2 linked regions of the Homo sapiens genome follow. The protein of the gene in region 2 interacts with the protein of the main gene of each other region in a pairwise test. Each region holds a gene or a part of one and is shown on either strand. Other genes may lie near its edges.

What was found.
Region 1: the proteins of ZFP2 (region 2) and BCDIN3D interact in binary tests that used the Homo sapiens proteins (3 or more experiments, as listed by UniProt).

What each region holds. Positions count from the first base shown.
Region 1 is NC_000012.12:49,839,028-49,848,648, reverse strand, and holds the start of BCDIN3D (RNA 5'-monophosphate methyltransferase), read left to right. Parts: upstream 1-5,542; 5' UTR 5,543-5,561; coding exon 5,562-5,795; intron 5,796-7,494; exon of another isoform or gene 7,495-9,621. UniProt on the Homo sapiens protein: O-methyltransferase that specifically monomethylates 5'-monophosphate of cytoplasmic histidyl tRNA (tRNA(His)), acting as a capping enzyme by protecting tRNA(His) from cleavage by DICER1.
Region 2 is NC_000005.10:178,897,644-178,906,619, reverse strand, and holds part of ZFP2 (zinc finger protein ZFP2), read right to left. Parts: intron 1-8,976. UniProt on the Homo sapiens protein: Probable transcription factor involved in neuronal differentiation and/or phenotypic maintenance.

The sequences.
Region 1 (9,621 bases), on a different chromosome or scaffold from region 2:
TAAAGTCCAGTGCCAATTGGCTGGTCAATATTTCACAAATATTCACTGCCTTTCTCCTCTCCTGTTTTTCCCAGACAGAAACTAGTTCGCTTTCTCACAAACCCGTGTTGTCTTCTTCCTGGACACACTGCTAGCCCACCATTCTTGCATCCAGGTGGACTGCGAGACTGAGTTCTGGCCAGCTCATGGAATGTGTTAGGAAGAGTTAGGAACGCCCCTTCTGGATCTGGCCCCAAATCTTCCCTTGAGATTCTCTAGGCTCTCTTCTCCCTCATCTGCAGCCAGGTTCAGAGGATTTTCAGAGGATTCACTGGAGGACTCAGTCCCCTAGAAAAGGCAGAGCTTCTAGATGCACCCATGAAGTCTTTGAGAAACAGAGTGCCCTCTCCCGCTCTCCCAGTGACCCACATTGAACCGTGATACTGGATGAGTAAGTCACCGAGATTTGGGGATTGCTTGTTATAGCACTTAGCCTACCCTGAATAATTCAGCCCTATCTTTGGAGAAATTTTTTTTACCTCCTGGGTCTCAGTTTCTTCATCTGAAAATGAGGTCAAAGCAGGACCTGGGATATTGAAAAAGAAAAAAGAAAACGAGGAATTTAGAATAGGGGCACTCTTGGTTGCCATGAGCTATAACACTGCATTTATAAATCCTATGGTTATTCTTTCCAAATGGTTTAAAACTCTACAAGGACTAAATGTAGAATTTCTCGACTATAATAAAGACTAAATTCCCAATTTATACATGGGTTGTGTTTCAAAAGTTCAGGTACAAGTTCCTTGTTGGAGCATTGTTTCTGTGAAAACATATATATAGATAGATAGATAGATAGATATTTTTTGAGATGGAGTTTCACTCTTGTTGCCCAGGCTGGAGTGCAATGGTGCAATTTTGGCTCACTGCAACTTCGGCCTCCTGGGTTCAAGTGATTCTCCTGCCTTAGCCTCCCGAATAGCTGGGATTACAGTGATGTGCCACCATGACCAGCTAATTCTGTATTTTTAGTAGAAATGGGGTTTCACCATGTTGGTCAGGCTGGTCTCAAACTCCTGACCTCACATCATCCACCTGCCTTGGCCTCCCAAAGTGCTAGGATTACAGGTGTGAGCTACTGCACCTGGCCAGATTCAATTTTTAAACATATACATAGGTTCCTGCTTCATCCTCAGTTCTGAGGCCCCCTAAGCTCTACCTTGGAAGCAGTGAGTGAGATAGGCAAGCAGCAGCTGAGCAAAGGCTCTGAGGTGTGATCAGAGAGGGACAGGAGGGTAGGATGGGCTGCACCATGGGCCAGGATGTCAGCTGTACAAGCTTCCTGTGGGAGGAAGTGGAAGCCATGATACATGCAAGTCATTGCTAAATTGGATATTTCCAATTATAGGTCTACCTCTTCTTTTTAACTGTGCTTGGGTACACGTTCTGTGCAGGGCAGAGATAGATTTACCATGAAGCTAATAAACCTCAGGCTTCGAGGTCCTCACTCCCATGTAGGACCTTTCCAAGGCCCTTGCAATGTGTTTACCAGGTCATTTGTTTTTGTAAAATTGGAAAAAGTGAGATATTTTAACTGCAGTTGGTTAAGGCTGCTGTCTATTTCTGCTCTGACTTCCCCTCCTTCACATTTTCCCTTGTGTTAGATGGCACTGAAGTGGCCACAGGCATTTTTGGGAAATAAAAGCTACAGGGAAGTTGAGTTGGGAATAGACTCCATTTGGTATCTATTCATATGGCATACCGACACTTCCATGCATAGCTACCACCTGCAACCCAGACACAGGAATACCTTCCAGAAGTACTCTTATTCATCCAGCAAGCTGACTTACCTGCTATTGTGACCTGTAGGTAGAAGAGCGGCTGGGCGCGGTGGCTCACGCCTGTAATCCCAGCACTTTGGGAGGCGGAGGCGGGCAGATCATGAGGTCAGGAGATCGAGACCGTCCTGGCTAACACAGTGAAACCCCGTCTCTACTAAAAATACAAAAAATTAGCCGGGCGTGGTGGCGGGCGCCTGTAGTCCCAGCTACTCGGGAGGCTGAGGCAGGAGAATGGCGTGAACCCGGGAGGCGGAGCTGGCAGTAAGCCGAGATCGCGCCACTGCACTCTAGCCTGGGCGACAGAGCAAGACTGTCTCAGAAAAAAAAAAAAAAAAAAAAAAAAAAAGGGCTTAGATCAAACCAGGATATAAATGTGTCCAATAGCACCTGGCACCCGAAGTTATGTGGGCCTAAAAGTTTGAAAATATATGAAGTCAGAAGCTAGTCTGAAGAAAATTATTCCAGTCATAAGCAGAAGATTCTGTCTCTTATTAAACACCAGTCAAAACAAGTTTTGTCCTGTCGGCAATAACACAGTAACTCAATAGCACAGCATATATAATTATAAATGCACCATGCATTCTTTTATTTCTTGATGGGAATTGTACAATACACAATTTATCAGAATCCCTATGTTTAAATTCCTTTGCTGACTTGACACAAATTACTGCTATCAATGCAGATGATAAAAATTTTATAATGCATCATTCATAATAAGGTTTTCAACGACAAATTGGCTAATGAATACAGTCCATTTGAAGAGTAGATCTAAGATTATTTCTTGCACAAGAAAATTTGAAATGCTCTGAAATCTTCCAGCTAATAAATGAAAGAAATTTAATCAAAGTTCTCCCCCAATTTGATAACAAACCAAAAAATTTACATGACATTGCCAATAACAACTTGTGAACTTGAAAGAAACTTTTATAACTGCCACAAATAATAAAAGACAAATTTGATCCACCAGGCTAAGAAAAGACTGAATTACCTTCCTGGTCTCTCTCTAAAATGATATTATCAAGTGATTGTCATGTGAAGAAGCAATCAAAGAGTATGCAGCCAAAAATGTAAGAAAAAAAGTAATATTCAAGTGTGACTAGCATTTAATCAATCAAACTATTATAGAATTTTTTTTTTTTTTTTGAGACGGAGTCTTGCTGTCGCCCAGGCTAGAGTGCAGTGGCACGATCTCGGCTCACTGCAGGCTCCGCCCCCTGGGGTTCACGCCATTCTCTTGCCTCAGCCTCCCGAGTAGCTGGGACTACAGGCGACCGCCACCTCGCCCGGCTAATTTTTTGTATTTTTAGTAGAGAGGGGTTTCACCGTGTTAGCCAGGATGGTCTCGATCTCCTGACCTCGTGATCCGCCCGCCTCGGCCTCCCAAAGTGCTGGGATTACAGGTGTGAGCCACCACACCAAGCCTATAGAAAATTTGTTGTGATGCTTTTAGTAGTCAGCTTTTCAAAATTTGTAATTTGTTGTGATTTCTCATTATAAATAAATATTCACTTTTATACCTGTCTTTATATTTGTAAGTTGGTGGGAGTTTTTTCCTTAAAGAGGGCGCCCCTTCTTCCCCTTTCCCTTGAAATTATATATGCATCTCACTCCATAAAACCTGGCTGACCAAAGTGCAGAGCGAGCTCTTAGGTGCTGCTACAGCTATTTAAGGTGCTGGGGCTGGTATTGTCAAGTATTGTCAAGACACCTGTGCTGTTCAGGCTCTGAAAAGTGGTCATAGGTTAGAAAAGTTACCAGAGTGGATCAAATTAAAACACCTCTTTATGAGGTCACCTGTCAGGCATTTTAGATTACCAGTAATGTTACGAGGGCCTATCTTTGCTTCTGGAGGAACCCCAGGGTCAGGAGTTCTTGCCATTCACTGTCCTGGAAGCAAGGTGATTCCAGCTCCTTGAAAATTGTTAATTATTTGTGCTAGCTTCATCTAGTGACAAAAAGAGGTAAGTTCAGCTCAGCTCACCAAAATTTGTCAAAACGGTGCAGCTTTTTCTCCTTTTCTGTAATTGTGCAGAATACTGTGGTTTACTAAATTCCAGAGTGACTTTTATTAACTTGTGTCCTCAAATAAGTGAAACTAGAGAAACAGCAGGCCAGATAGAGATGAAAATATAAAGGCTGGGCGTGGTGGCTCTCGCCTGTAATCCCAACACTTTGGGAGGCCGAGGTGGGCAGATCACGAGGTCAGGAGTTCGAGACCAGCCTGGCCAACATAGTGAAACCCCGTCTCTACTAAAAAATACAAAAACTTAGCCAGGAATGGTGGCGGGTGCCTGTAATTCCAGCTACTTGGGAGGCTGAGGCAGGAGAATCACTTGAACCTGGGAGGCAAAGGTTGCAGTGAGCCGAGATCATGTCATTGCACTCCAGCCCAGGCAATAGTGTGAGACTCTATCTCAAAAAAAGGAGAAAAGAAAAAGAAAATATAAAGTAAAAACTGAGAGGAAAACAGCGCTTATTTTAACTCCTGATGGTACTGTTTGCAGGAGTCATGCTCCAGTGCCTTATAAGAAGTTTACCGAACTGCCAGCCTCATGGAGCAGGATACCCCTTTAAGATGGGTGGGCCAGGTGCAGGGGTGGGGTTGGGGGTCCTGCACAACTCTGCTGATGCTTGGTTGACCCTGACGGATATTCTGGGCCATCCTGGCTTTTGACTGGAACCTGCTACCTAGGTTGACCCTTCAGTTCCTCTCCTTATCAGCTCTGTTATTTCCAATCTCTGAGTCACATCTTGCCCAACTCCATTCCACTATGTCTGCTTCAGTTGGCATCCTTTCTCCCTTCCATTTAAAGTTTCCCCAAACAGATCTGGCCTTATTGTATTCTCTATTGAGTTTTCATTCAACAACATTTGTTGAGCATCTTTGTGCCAGGCCCATGTTAAGTATAGGAGACTCAAGGCTGAGAATAACACACCGTTGCAAGCACATCCTCTGGATCCAAACTCCCTGGGTTCGAATCCTAGTACCATCATTTCTAACTGTGGGATCTTGGACAAGTTACTTTGTTTTACTCCAGTGTCCTCATCTATATAAAAAGAATAATAATACGGTCATTTTCTCACGGGGTGAGAGGATTGACTAAGGAGCTTACAAGGGTGTCTGGTGCCTGGTAAGCACTCTTTAAGTGCTGGCTCTTAAGGCACGGTCCTTGCCTCTCAAGGAGCTCATGGTCTACAGTTGCCCCTGGGGGACAGGGCTGAGTCGGCTGGCTTCGCAAGTGACCTGCACCTCCTGGCTACCCTTTCCTGAACCGGGTGGAAGTTTTTGAGTCACAGATTCAATGTATGACCCCAGACAAGTAAGTTCTCTCGGTCTCACTTTTTGCATTTATAAAGAAAGGAAATTGGACTAAAATTGATTTCCAAGATCCCAACAAACTAGTATACTTGTTCTGGGTCAAGTAGCCCAAGTTTCAAACTATGTCAGCTTGGCCAAGACACTTAGCCCTCAGAGTTTGTTTCATCCCTGTAAAACGTGGATGATATTGCTAATCCCCTCCCAGTGTTGTGATGAGGGTTCAATAATACAAGGCAAGCCCCAGGCGCTCGCCGGCTCCAGGTATACAGCGAGAGGAAATCAGGACAGCTTTTCTGATTCACCGCAGAATTCTAGCCACCCGCCCTAGCCGTTCGACGCACGCGCGCTGGCACCGCCACCGCCCACGCCGACAGCAGGTTCCCGGCTTCCGGTTCCGCCACGGCCCAGAGGCTGTGTTGAGGCTAATGGCGGTGCCCACGGAACTGGATGGAGGGAGTGTTAAGGAGACCGCAGCGGAAGAGGAATCGCGAGTTCTGGCACCTGGCGCCGCCCCGTTCGGAAATTTTCCTCATTATTCTCGCTTCCACCCTCCGGAGCAACGGCTCCGCCTCCTGCCCCCGGAGCTGCTTCGACAGCTCTTTCCTGAGAGTCCCGAGAACGGGCCGATTCTGGGGCTCGACGTGGGGTGTAACTCCGGGGTGAGTGACAGGGGAGGGATTGGAGCATCCGGAGCCAAGTGGTTGGCTGCCTACACATCCACTGTGGTTCTGGCCTGGGCTAACACCCATCGAAACTTTCCCAAAACGAGTATAAAGCGTGGCTTTGACTGAGCCAGTGCCGCTGCTGCCTGCCCGCCAGGGTTCCACCATCTGTCTTAGGAATCTCTCTTGGAGAGGAGTCCTTGTCGACTACGTTCCCACTTTTCTTTCAGGGCCAGACCCCAGGTGGGAACGGTCCTTGTATCTAGGGTGGCCTCTGTCCAGCGTGCCTGGCGCTTTGGCTGGGGAGAGGGGGCTTCCAGAGACACACGTTTGGGAACATGGGGTTAGGTTTGGTTTACTGGGAGAGAAGAGCCAAGGGTGACAGAATCATGCCTGATATTGAGACTCATGTGTGCTATACAGTGCAGGACAGACCCTGGGACCTGCATGTTTATTTCAAAAAAAGTGAGTAGGCCGGGCGCGCTGGCTCACGCCTGTAATCCCAGCACTTTCGGAGGCCGAGGCGGGTGGATCACAAGGTCACGAGATCGAGACCATCCTGGCTAACACGGTGAAACCCCGTCTCTACTAAAAATACAAAAAATTAGCCGGTCGTGGTGGCGGGCGCCTGTAGTCCAGCTACTCCGGAGGCTGAGGCAGGAGAATGGCGTGAACCCGGGAGGCGGAGCTTGCAGTGAGCCGAGCTAGTGCCACTGCACTCCAGCCTGGGCGACAGAGCGAGACTCCGTCTCAAAAACAAAACAAAACAGTGAGTTGACAGAGTACAGTGGAGAGGATCGAGAAGCAAATAAAGCATTTTGCCCAAGGGAATGGAGAAGGGCGGCACTGCCACTCTTCTTGCTGCAAACTATTCTTAGGCATATGATTATAATCAAACCACATGCAAAATAAGGAAATGTCTCTCCCACACCTATTTGTAGCCACTGGGATATTCTACACTAGCAGGCAGTCTGAACTTACCACGGCAAATGCTTCAAAAGTTAGTACCCTCTCTGCGCTCCCTCCATCACTCCAGTCCAGCATCTGGAGGGCGGGGGACAATTCTGTTACGTTGCTGTCCTTTTACAGAAGAGACTTTGGGGGACGACTTCAGACCTTGTGGGACTCAGATGATAGTAGGAAGGGGACATTTGGATACAGTCTCAAAGACTGGAATGAGGAGATGGGTTGATGTCCTGTGTCCCCTGCAAAATTTCTCCGCTGTGATGATACGGGAAGTCAGAGGGTAAAAACAATGGAAAAGAGAGACTGAGGTTAAGGCTTGGGATTTCACGAAAGGCATTAGGAAACCACCAGAGATTTTAAAGTTGAGAGTAGTATACACATGAGAGGTAAAGACATAGTTGGCAGCTAACTAGGGTAGTGGTTCCCAAACCTGGCTGTACGTTTATGGAGCTTTCTGTTTTGCAGTTTTTAAAAAATGCTTTTTCTTGTGGATCTTTGTAGTCAGGAAAGGGAAAAAAAATGCTTGCGCTTGATAAAACAAAAAAATTCAAACTACAAAGGGGTATATACTAAAAAGTAAGTCTCTACTCCCAACCCTAAATCCTCCTTTTCCCCCACACAGTGGCACTACTGTTTATAATTTCTTAGGTATCAGTCTTGTGTGTATACCAGCATTTACGTACATATAAGTACCCCCCTTTTAGTTTTACAAATGGTAACACACTATTAGTAGCTTTTAATTCTGAGATTATTTATATCACCACATTCTTTTTTTAGCAGCTTCCTAATGTTTCATTGGATAGATGTACCATAATTTATGGGTGCTTTTTTTTTTCAATTTTAAAAACTCCTTTCCCAGCCTGGGCAACATGGCAAAACCCCATCTCTAAAAAAAATTAGCCAGGTGTGGTGGTGGGCATCTGTAGTCCCAGCTACTTAGAGAGCTGAGGGAGGAGGATCGCTTGAACCCAGGAGGTCGAGGCTGCAGTGAGCCTTGATTGTGCCACATACCCCAGCCTGGGTGACGAAGTGAGACCCTGTCTCAAATAAAACAACAACAAAAAACCCAAAAAACTGCTGGGTGCAGTGGCTGACGCTGTAATCCCAGCATTTTCAGAGACTGACGCTGGTGGATTGCTTGAGCTCGGGAGTTTGAGATCAGCCTGGGCAACATGGCAAAATCTCATCCCTACCAAAAATACAAAAATTAGCTGGGCATGGTGGTGTGCACCTGTGGTTCCAGCTACTCATAAGGCTGAAGTAGGAGGATCTCTGGAGCCTGGGAAGTCAAGGTTGCAGTGATCACACCACTGTACTCCAGCCTGGGAAACAGAGTAAGATCCTGTCTCAAAAATAAATAAATAAATAAATAATAAACATTTTCAGCACCCCACAACTTCCCCTATATGCCTTTTCCTGTTCATAAACCTCTATCTCTACCCAGAGGTAACAACTAGCCTTCTGTTGTTTCCTTGCTTTTCTTTATAGTGTACTGTTTTTCTTCCCTGAATGATGTACTTTAATTTCACCCATTTTTGAGCTTCATGTAAATGGATGCTTTTCATATATTTTCTGTTATGGCTTGCTTTTTTTCTCAACATTATGTATTTGTGAGAATCATCCATGTTGTGCACCAAGCTGGGTGCCTTCATTTTTTAACTGCTATTTAGTATTCTATCTTCATGATTATACCACATTTATTTGTCCATGCCACTATCACTGGACATCTGGGTGGTTTCCATTGTGCATTTTCTTCACCTGCAGAAAAGGCATAAATAAATATTTTCCTCACATGCTTGTTACACCAAGCAAACAAAGTAGTAAACAGAAAAATGCCTTGAAAATACTATGTGGAAAAACACAAATTTGAGTTAGTTATAATGGTTATAGAAATCAAAGAGGCCAGGTGCAGTGGCTCATTCCTATAGTCCCAGCACTTTGGGAGGCCGAGGCAGGTGGATCACTTGAGGTCAGTTAAAGACCAGCCTGGCCAACATGGTGAAACCCTGTCTCTAATAAAAATACAAAAATTAGCTGAGTGTGGTGATGCATGCCTGTAATCCCAGCTACTTAGGAGGCTGAGGCAGGAGAATCGCTTGAACCTGGGAGGCAGAGGTTGCTGAGATCACGCCATTGCACTCCAGCCTGGCCGACAGAACCAGACTTTGTCTCAAAAAAAAAAAGAATTCAAAGTTAGAGAAAGGAGATGGTGACTTAAGAGTAAAAAAGGTGCTAATGTGGTAAAAATCACAAATCATTGGACTTGTCTAGAAGGTTGTTAGCAGTGACTTTTAGCAATGATGGTTATAGAAGCAGAATGTCTCAGAAGGAGGTGGTGAATCCTAAGACAGTAAAATTGAAGCTTTAGTGAAGGCTGAATGAGGACTTTGGAATCCAGACTTCCCCCACCGCGGGTCTGAGAAGCAGGTTTTTGTAAGATTGTGCTTGCTGTATTCCTCACTTTCCTGGTAAGAGACACTGGTTATGCCTCTGGACCCCTTTCTTCCGCCCTGGGGTCTTGAGATACCCAGAAAAAGAGTGAGTTTATCAGCATATTACTTAAGCTGGGAAATACTGCTGTAGGTTCCTTTGCTGCATCCATTTGGCTGTAACTTTCAGCTATACAACCCAATCTATCATCAGTGTCAGGAAAATATGGGGATGATGCATTACAGCATGTGACCCCTGGAGGGCACTGAGAGCCTACTCTGTAGAAAATTTTTGCACAACCTCTTTAGGTTATGGTTTAGGAACCTCACATCCTATACAGCCAGAGGTAAGTGGCATTCTCAGTGGGAGAATGATACAGATTTCTCTTCCATTCACTGATTGAGAACTGCAGTGACAAAGCTGTTTT
Region 2 (8,976 bases):
CGGGCCACTGCACTCCAGCCTAGGCAACAGAGTGAGACTCTGTCTCAAAAAAAAATAAATAAATAAAGACAAAAACTCTAAAATTGATTTAAAATCCAGCTGTATGGTACCTACAAAAGATATACGTAAAACAGAAACCAAAAAGTTTAAAATTTCAAAAGAGGAGGGCAGACACAGGATATAGCAGGCAAATGCAAATGTAAAGAAAGCAGTGAGAATAACGTTATCAGATAAGGGAGAATATATGTGAAAACAAAAATAAGCCTCTTTTTGGTGAAAGAAGGTATCAAATCAGAAATGCAAGATTCCCCTTCCAAAAATCATCCACTTTTTTCAACAAATTACCTTGTTAGCTGAATACAGAAGGCAAAATAAAAGTCCAAATCCAGGTTGCTATGTGCTGGTCTTCCTTGCTTCCCTAAACCCTCACCACCTTAAGTCCTGGCTCTGTGCTCAGCATGCGCAGAGCTTCTATTGTGAAATGCACTGCAGATCCCCGTGCCAGCTGTGGGCTGGTAAAGTGCTGATTTAGGTAACTACAAAAGGCTTCTTAAAAGGTGAACATGGCCAGACATGGTGGCTCACGCCTGTAATACCAGCACTTTGGGAGGCCAAGGCAGGTGGCGGATGGCTTGAGCTCAGGGGTTCGAGACCAGCCTGGGTAACATGACGAAACCTTGTCTCTACAAAAAAGACAAAAATTGGCTGGGCGTGGTAGTGTGCACCTGTGGTCCCAGCTATTCGGGAGGCTGAGGTGGGAACATGGCTTGAGCTCAGGAGGCAGAGGTTGCAGTGGGCTGAGATCACACCACTGTAGTCCAGTCTGGGCAATTCAGCCAGGCCTTGTCTCCAAAAAAAAGAAAAAAGAAAAAAAAAAAGAAAGTGAACATGGAACTTAGTAATATACATTTGTCATCAATTCCTTAAGATGTTTTATTCCTTTCCTCCTTTCCATTTAGTATGAGTCATTTTCCCCCTAGCACTACATTCAGTACAGGATACCTCATAGTGTTTAAGGAGCTTCATGGGTTTATCTTACTCATACAGAGGTTTTCTTAAACCTAAAAACAAAGGCTTTTTGATACAGTTATTGTTTGAAAAAACTGCATATCAAATAGAATAAGGACATTATAAATGATGAAAGCATAATTTATAAGTAAAATATGATAGTGATGAAGTTTTAGGCACTGCAGCAGCAAAGTGTCTTCAGATATGATACTGAGCAATCCACATTTTTTCTTTACAAAATCACAATCATATTTAAACTCCAATTACAACAGCAACAGAAAATGAAACACCTAAGAATACATTTAAGAGAAATATGCAAGATCTTCATGATTGGTCTGTAAAGAGTTAAAGGCCATAATGAAAGATCTGAATAGAATAAAGTATCATTTTTTTACTTAATATGAAGAATAAACATCGTAAAGATGGCAATCTTCCTCAAACTGACTTACACACTTTGAAATTCAAATCAGAACTGCATAATTTTACTTTTTTACTATTACTGTTGGAACTTCATAATAAAATTCGACTATTAAGGATAAATATACGAGAACAGTAACGAAACTTTTGAAACGAAAAATGAGGGAAGAGTTGCTTTACGAAATACCAAAATGGGCCGGGCGCAGTGGCTCACTCCTGTAATCCCAGCACTTTGGGAAGCTGAGGCAGGCAGATCACGAGGTCAGGAGTTCGAGACCAGCCTGCCAGCATGGTGAAACCCCGTCTCTACTAAAAATACAAAAAGTTAGCCAGGCGTGGTGGCACGTGCCTGTAGTCCCAGCTACTGAGGAGGCTGAGGCAAGAGAATGCCTTGAACCCGGCAGGCAGAGGTTGCAGTGAGCCAAAATCATGCCATTGCACTCCAGCCTGGGAGACAGAGCAAGACTCTGTCTCTCAAAAAAAAAAAAAAAAAAAAAAGCAAAATGAATTCTGAGACAACAAATACAATAGTGTGGTACTACAACAGAAATAGAACAATGGAATAGAATCCAGAAAAATAAACATATATATAAATTTTAAAAATAAACTCATATATAAATATATGTAAACTATATTATAATATAAACTCTCATATATATTTCATATATATGTGACAATTTGGCATATTTTAAAGGTTCCATTTCAAGTCCACGGAGAGTGAGCAGATTATTTCAGTAGATAACATCAGCTCCAATGCCATCTCCTGAGAGGGGCCACTCCTCTGCTGAGCTAAAACAGCCCTGAGTGACACTCTACCATGTTCCCCTGCTGCGTCCTCATCACAGCACCTAACACTATCCTCAACCACATTTCCTCTTTATTGTCTGCATCCCCTGTGGAAAATAAGAGCTCAGAGAAGGAGATCTTGCCTCTCTTACTCACTGCAACACTCCCAGTATCCAGAACACGGCACACCACATGGCAGAGAAGCGCTAAATATGTTTAATGAGTGGATGGATGGATGAAATGCTTCACCACATCATGTTAAATGAAGTTAGATCCCTACTTCACATCACAGACAATACATTCCAGATAGCACAAGGATGTAAATTTAAAATTATAAAACTAATAGAAAACACAGAAAAAGATTTATATTATCTTGGGGTACAGAAAACTTTTCTTTTTTTTTTCTTTTTTCTTTTTTGGAGATGGAGTCTCACTCTGTTGCCGGGCTAGAGTGCAGTGGCACAATCTTGGCTCACGGCAACCTTCACCTCCCGGGTTCAACCGATTCTCCTGCCTCAGCCTCCCCAGTAGCTGGGACTACAGGCACGTGCCACCATGCCCAGCTAATTTTTGTATTTTTGTATTTTGTAATTTTGTATTTTTAGTAGAGACGGAGTTTCACCGTATTGGCCAGGATGGTCTCAATCTCTTGACTTCGTGATCCACCCACCTCGGCCTCCCAAAGTGTTGGGATTACAGGCGTGAGCCACCATGCCAGGCTCCTTTTCATAGCATGATCCCAAAGCCAAGTAAAGAGAAAGGAAATTTAACTGCATAAAACTTCAAAACTTTTTTGTAGCAAAATATATTATAAACAAATTTAAAAGAAACATGACAGAATACTGGCAACGTATAGCAAAGGAATACTATCCACTTTATAGGAAAGACCTCTTTTATATGTAAATAACTCAATATAAAAATGGGCAAAGGGTGTAGACAGGTATTTTAAAAGGCTGGAAGAATGTACATCATAGTTGTTTCTGAGGGTTGGAAACTTGGAATTCTCTCTCATTGCCTTTAAATTTTTAAAAAGGGATAGTAGATATGATTAGTCTATATGCCCAATATTTATATTCAAAAAAATATTAAATTTAAAGGCAAATAAAAGTAACACCTAGACAATTCATACTACCATCACTGGCCAATATGGGAAAGATGAAACTACGGAGAAAGATGAAAAAAGGAAAACAGCTCTAATGTTGCATTGATATGTCCCAAGTCTATTACTGTACTTCGTAATTGCATTCCATTTACAGGTTATAAACACATCTAGTTGACAATTACACTTTATTTCTCAACATCTGAGTTACTCATTTCTCATCTACTGTACAGTTCCAAGTGATTCATCAGTAATTCAGAGAAGCAGCAACAAAAGTGACAAAATGCCTGTCATCAGCTGCTATCAAGTGTCTAGACTAATGTCCCTTAAGGCAGACTGGTTAACTAAACTATGATATGCCCACATAATCAAAGAAAGAAGCCCCGATGTACTGATATGGACAGGTCTCCAAGATATATTGTGAAATGCAAAATAGCTAAAAATAGAACAGGTGCAGACTCCTGAGTAAATATTATCTGTTATCAACTGGATTAAAAATTGGGAAAATACATACTTTTATGGGCTTTTGTAGTCATCTCTGGAAAGCTACATAAGAAATGAGAATCATTACCTTTTTATGAGAAGAGATAATAGGGAGCTTGGAGACAAGAGTAGGAAGAAGATTTATTTTAAGTGAATGCTTATTTTTGAATTCTGAACACTGACTGTATCAGCCATTCAAATTTTAATTAATCACAATCTGAATCAAATTATCAGCAAACATCAAACAAACCCACATTGAGGATCATTCTATGAAATAATTGGCCTGTACTCTTCAAAAGTATCCAAGTCATTGAAGATCAATAATGAACTTTTCTAGATAAAAGGAGACCAAGGAGATACGACAGCTAAATACAATGTGTGATGTGGATTGGATTCTGCACCAGATAAAGGACAGTTGTAGGACAGGTGGCAAAATCCAAGTAAGGTTTGTAGTTTGGCTAATAGTATTGTATCGATGTAAGTTTTCCTTATTTTGATAACTGTATTTTTGCTAGGTATGATAATAGAAAGCACACACGGACACTTAGAGTGAAATGGGCATGTCTGTAATTTATTCTCAAATGGTTCAGAAATATATATACACAAACATGTGTGTGTATACAGGAAGAGAAAAATGGCAAAATGTTAATTTAGATGAAGACTATCCAGAAATTGTTTTATTTTTGCAGCATTTGTTGTTGTCTCAGTCTGTCTCCCAGGCTGGAGTGCAGTGGAGTGATCTCACGTCACTGCAACTTCCGCCTCCTGGGTTCCAACGATTCTCCCACCTCAGCCTCCTGAGTAGCTGGGATTACAGGTGTGTGCCACCACGCCCGGTTCATTTTTTGTATTTTTAGTAGAGACGGGGTTTCACCATGTTGGCCAGGCTGGTCTCGAACTCCTGACCTCAAGTGATCCACCTGCCGTGGCCTCCCAAAGTGCTGGGATTACAGGCATGAGCCACCGTGCCCGGCCTTGCAGCAGTTTTTAAAGTCTGAAATTATTTCATAATAAAAGTTAAAAAAAAAACAAACCAAAAAACCACAAGATGCATTTTCCACCCTTGAAAATAACTAAAATTTAAAAAGCTTATAATACCTAGTGTTATGAACTGTGTCCCCCAAAAAAGGTATGTTGAAGTCCCAGCTTCTAGTACCTTGCAATAGGACCTCATCTGAAAACAGGTTGTCTCAAATATGACTGGTATCCTTATAAGAAAAACGGCTATTTGAAGACATGAACACATAAGGATAACATCAGATGACAAAGGAGGTAAGGATTAGAGCGATGCAGCCATGAACCAAGGAACACCAAAGAGTGCCAGCAAACCACCAGAAGCTAGAAGCTAGGAAGAGTAAAGGAAGGATTCCCCCACCAGTTTCAGAGAGCAAGGCCCTGCAAATGCCTTCATTTCAGACTTCTGGCCTCCAAAACTGTGAGACAATAAATTTCTATTGTTTCGAGCCACTCAATTTGTGGCACTTTATTACAGCAGCTCTTGGAAATGGATACACCAAGTATGGAAGAGCATGTAGAGCGACTGGAATTCTCAAATACTGCAGGAGGGAATGTACAATGGTACATATACTTTGGAAAACAGTTTAGCTGTTTGTTACAAAGTCAAATGTACACTTGACCTAGGTATTTACCCAAGAGAAATTAAAGTATATATCCACAAAAAGACTCATACATGAATGTACAGAGCAGTTTTATTCATAATAGCTAAAAACAGGAAACAACTTGAAATGTCTGTCACAAGTGAATGAACAAAAGGTGGTATATTCAACTGTGTACTACTTAAGACAAAAAGGAACAAACTATTACTACACACAATATCATGTAAAGACCTGAAAAACATTACGTTGAGCAAAAAAAGCCAGGCATAATATATACTGTTTGATTTCATTGACATGAAGTTCTACAAAGGGCAATACTGTAGGGACAGAAATCAAACCAGTGACTTCCTGGGGTGGGGGACGTGGAGTAGAAGTGGCACGAGGACACTGTCTGGCTGGGGTGGGGGACGTGGAGTAGAAGTGGCACGAGGACACTGTCTGGCTGGGATGGGGGACGTGGAGTAGAAGTGGCACGAGGACACTGTCTGGCTGGGGTGGGGGACGTGGAGTAGAAGTGGCACGAGGACACTGTCTGGCTGGGGTGGGGGACGTGGGGTAGAAGTGGCACGAGGACACTGTCTGGCTGGGGTGGGGGACGTGGAGTAGAAGTGGCACGAGGACACTGTCTGGCTGGGGAGGGGGACGTGGAGTAGAAGTGGCACGAGGACACTGGCTGGCTGGGGTGGGGGACGTGGAGTAGAAGTGGCACGAGGACACTGTCTGGCTGGGGAGGGGGACGTGGAGTAGAAGTGGCACGAGGACACTGGCTGGCTGGGGTGGGGGACATGGAGTAGAAGTGGCACGAGGACACTGGCTGGCTGGGGTGGGGGACGTGGAGTAGAAGTAGCACGAGGACACTGTCTGGCTGGGGAGGGGGACGTGGAGTAGAAGTGGCACGAGGACACTGGCTGGCTGGGGTGATGCAAAAGTTCTGTACCTTGACTGAGGTGGTGGCTATGTTGGTGCATAAATTTGTCAAAACTCAATGAATTCTATGCTTAAATTGGGTTATTTTATTAAACTGTGCCTCAGAAAAAGCTGATTTAAAAATTAACACTATTTTGGCTACATAAATTAAAATGTAGGTTACTGACAACCAAACCACAACAGTCATCAACCAAAATCTTCTTAATGCTTCCCCTTTCAACATTTCCCTCTTCCAGAAACTCCCTTTGTCCAATACCCCCATTTTAAAAGTTATTTTGCCTTTTATAACTGAGTTTGATAATACTGAAGAAAGCAGTACAAATGGAAATCACAACAGTTTATACTTGCCTCCACGAAGCTTTCTTTAAACTGGTCTCTAATAAATAAACAAGTGATCCTAATAAATCAACGACCCCTAATACATACTTTTATGAGAAGAGAAAATGCCGTTAAGTCTTCAGTATTCCAGACAACAAGGCTAAGTAAGTTTAACCTTAAAAAAAAAAAAGAAGTTAGGGCCAAGTCTTCTGATGCCTTATTTTCTTTTTCAGAGAAGCCTGGAATCCTCACCTACTATCCCAGCTCCATGCTTCCCTCCATCTCACGGACACTACTTTTTCCTAGGAAAGTTTTGATTGTGCGAACTCCCTTATCAAAATTCCTCAGACTGACCTCCACCCCCATGGCCACCACCCTGCCAAACACACAAACTCCTCCTTCCCGACACTTGGTCCTAAAATTTTTATCCGATTTCTTCTACTCCAGCAGAGCATTTCTCACTATCAGTCACTGCCCCCTTCAGTCCACCTCTAAAAGTCTATACACAGGCTCTTGGCTGGGATGATACTAAGAATGCCTACAACTTACTGAATAACTTCAACATTCCAGGAGCCATGCCAGGCATTTTTTACTTTTATTATTTTATTTGAACTTTCAACAGACCTATGAAGTAGCTATTACTATTAAATGAAATCAGCCAGGTGACGTTCTTCATGTCACCTATATGGCAGACAGGTAATGCTGTAATTCCTATTATGACCATGAGAAAATAATGTTTCAGGAAAGCCAAGCCTCTTGCCAAGACAATGTAGCTATTAAATGGTAGAGCTGGGATTTAAACTCTGGACACACTGACTCCCTTATAACAAATCCTCTCCAGTTATCCCTTCCCAACCCCTGAGATGGGCAAACACTACCTACTTCTCCTGGCCACCACCCTGATCCTCCCCTTCACTCCAGCTTGGAATACGGATAAACTGGGTCCCTAACCACACTTGTTCTTATTACCATATTCAGGTGCAATTATGACTGTATACCATGCAGATGTGCCCTCTTTTATGATCCCTGAGAGCCCATAAGCCCTATAAGCACCAGCACCAGCTTGCATATAACTTTTTTCCCTTTCTGACCCTTGAACAGCACCAAGAACACAGCAGGCCAGGGTATCCAGCTGAGTAAGTGGCAGCTAGGAACAGAGGTCAGGAACACAGAGGGGGCTTTGTGAAAAATATCCAGCATTCTGCTATTTCAATAACCCTGTCCTGAGCAGTGAGGCCCACATGCAGTACAGGAGGAAGGGGGAGGTTTGAGAGGGAAAAATGAGCTCACCCGAGCTCCCAATGGCAGAGGCCAAGCAGCCATTGCCTTCTCCTTCCTTCCTGTGGGGTTCTTCCTTGGGGAGGGACAGAAGCCAAAGGAGGCAGAGCTGAGGGAAGGGAAAGAAGCCATGAGAAACAAGACTCCTGCAACAGCAACAATGAAAATACCTATAAATAAACTAAATAAGACCTGGATAGTAGCTACATAAAGAAAATGATTTTCATGTATTAAGTTCACTTCATTATGCCTATTTAGCTATACAAAGACGAAAGACAGAGAGACATGACATATTCTTGCACAATATGTCTCAATATACCAGGATGTCATTTCTTTAATTCATAAACTTAACACATTCCCAGCCAAGTTATGCCTAAGTAACAATATTTTACAGTTAATATGGGCCATGCGCGGTGGCTCACGCCTGTAATCCCAGCACTTTGGGAGGCCAAGGTGGGTGGACCACTTGAGGCCAGGAGTTCGAGACCAGCCTGGCCAAAATGGCAAAATCCTGTCTCTACCAAAAATACAAAAATTAGAGAGTGGTGGTGGGCGCCTGTAATCCCAGCCACTCAGGAGTCTGAGGCAGGAGAATCACTTGAACCGGGGAGGTAGAGGTTGCAGTGTCGAGATCACACCACTGCACTCTAGCCTCGGTGACAGAGCAAGACTCCGTCTCAATAAAAAAAAAGAAGTTCACTAATTATGGAAAAAATATTTAAGTTGTGTGTTACAACAACTAAGACTTTTTTAAAAAAGAATACTGATGAGAGACAACTTGCCCACCAGTATTCATAAAGCTACAAGAATTGGAACACAATATTACTGACTTATTTACCAGATACATTGTTGACCACCTACTGTATACTAGGCACCATTGCATGGGGTAGGGGTGGATACAGCTGTAAATAAAACAGATAAACTCTCCGCAATCATGGATGTTATAGCCGAACAGGGAAAAGCATCAATGGAACAAATTAAAATTCTACCAACCTAAATGGTTCAAATACACATGTATTTATGTATGTGTGTGTATATATATAT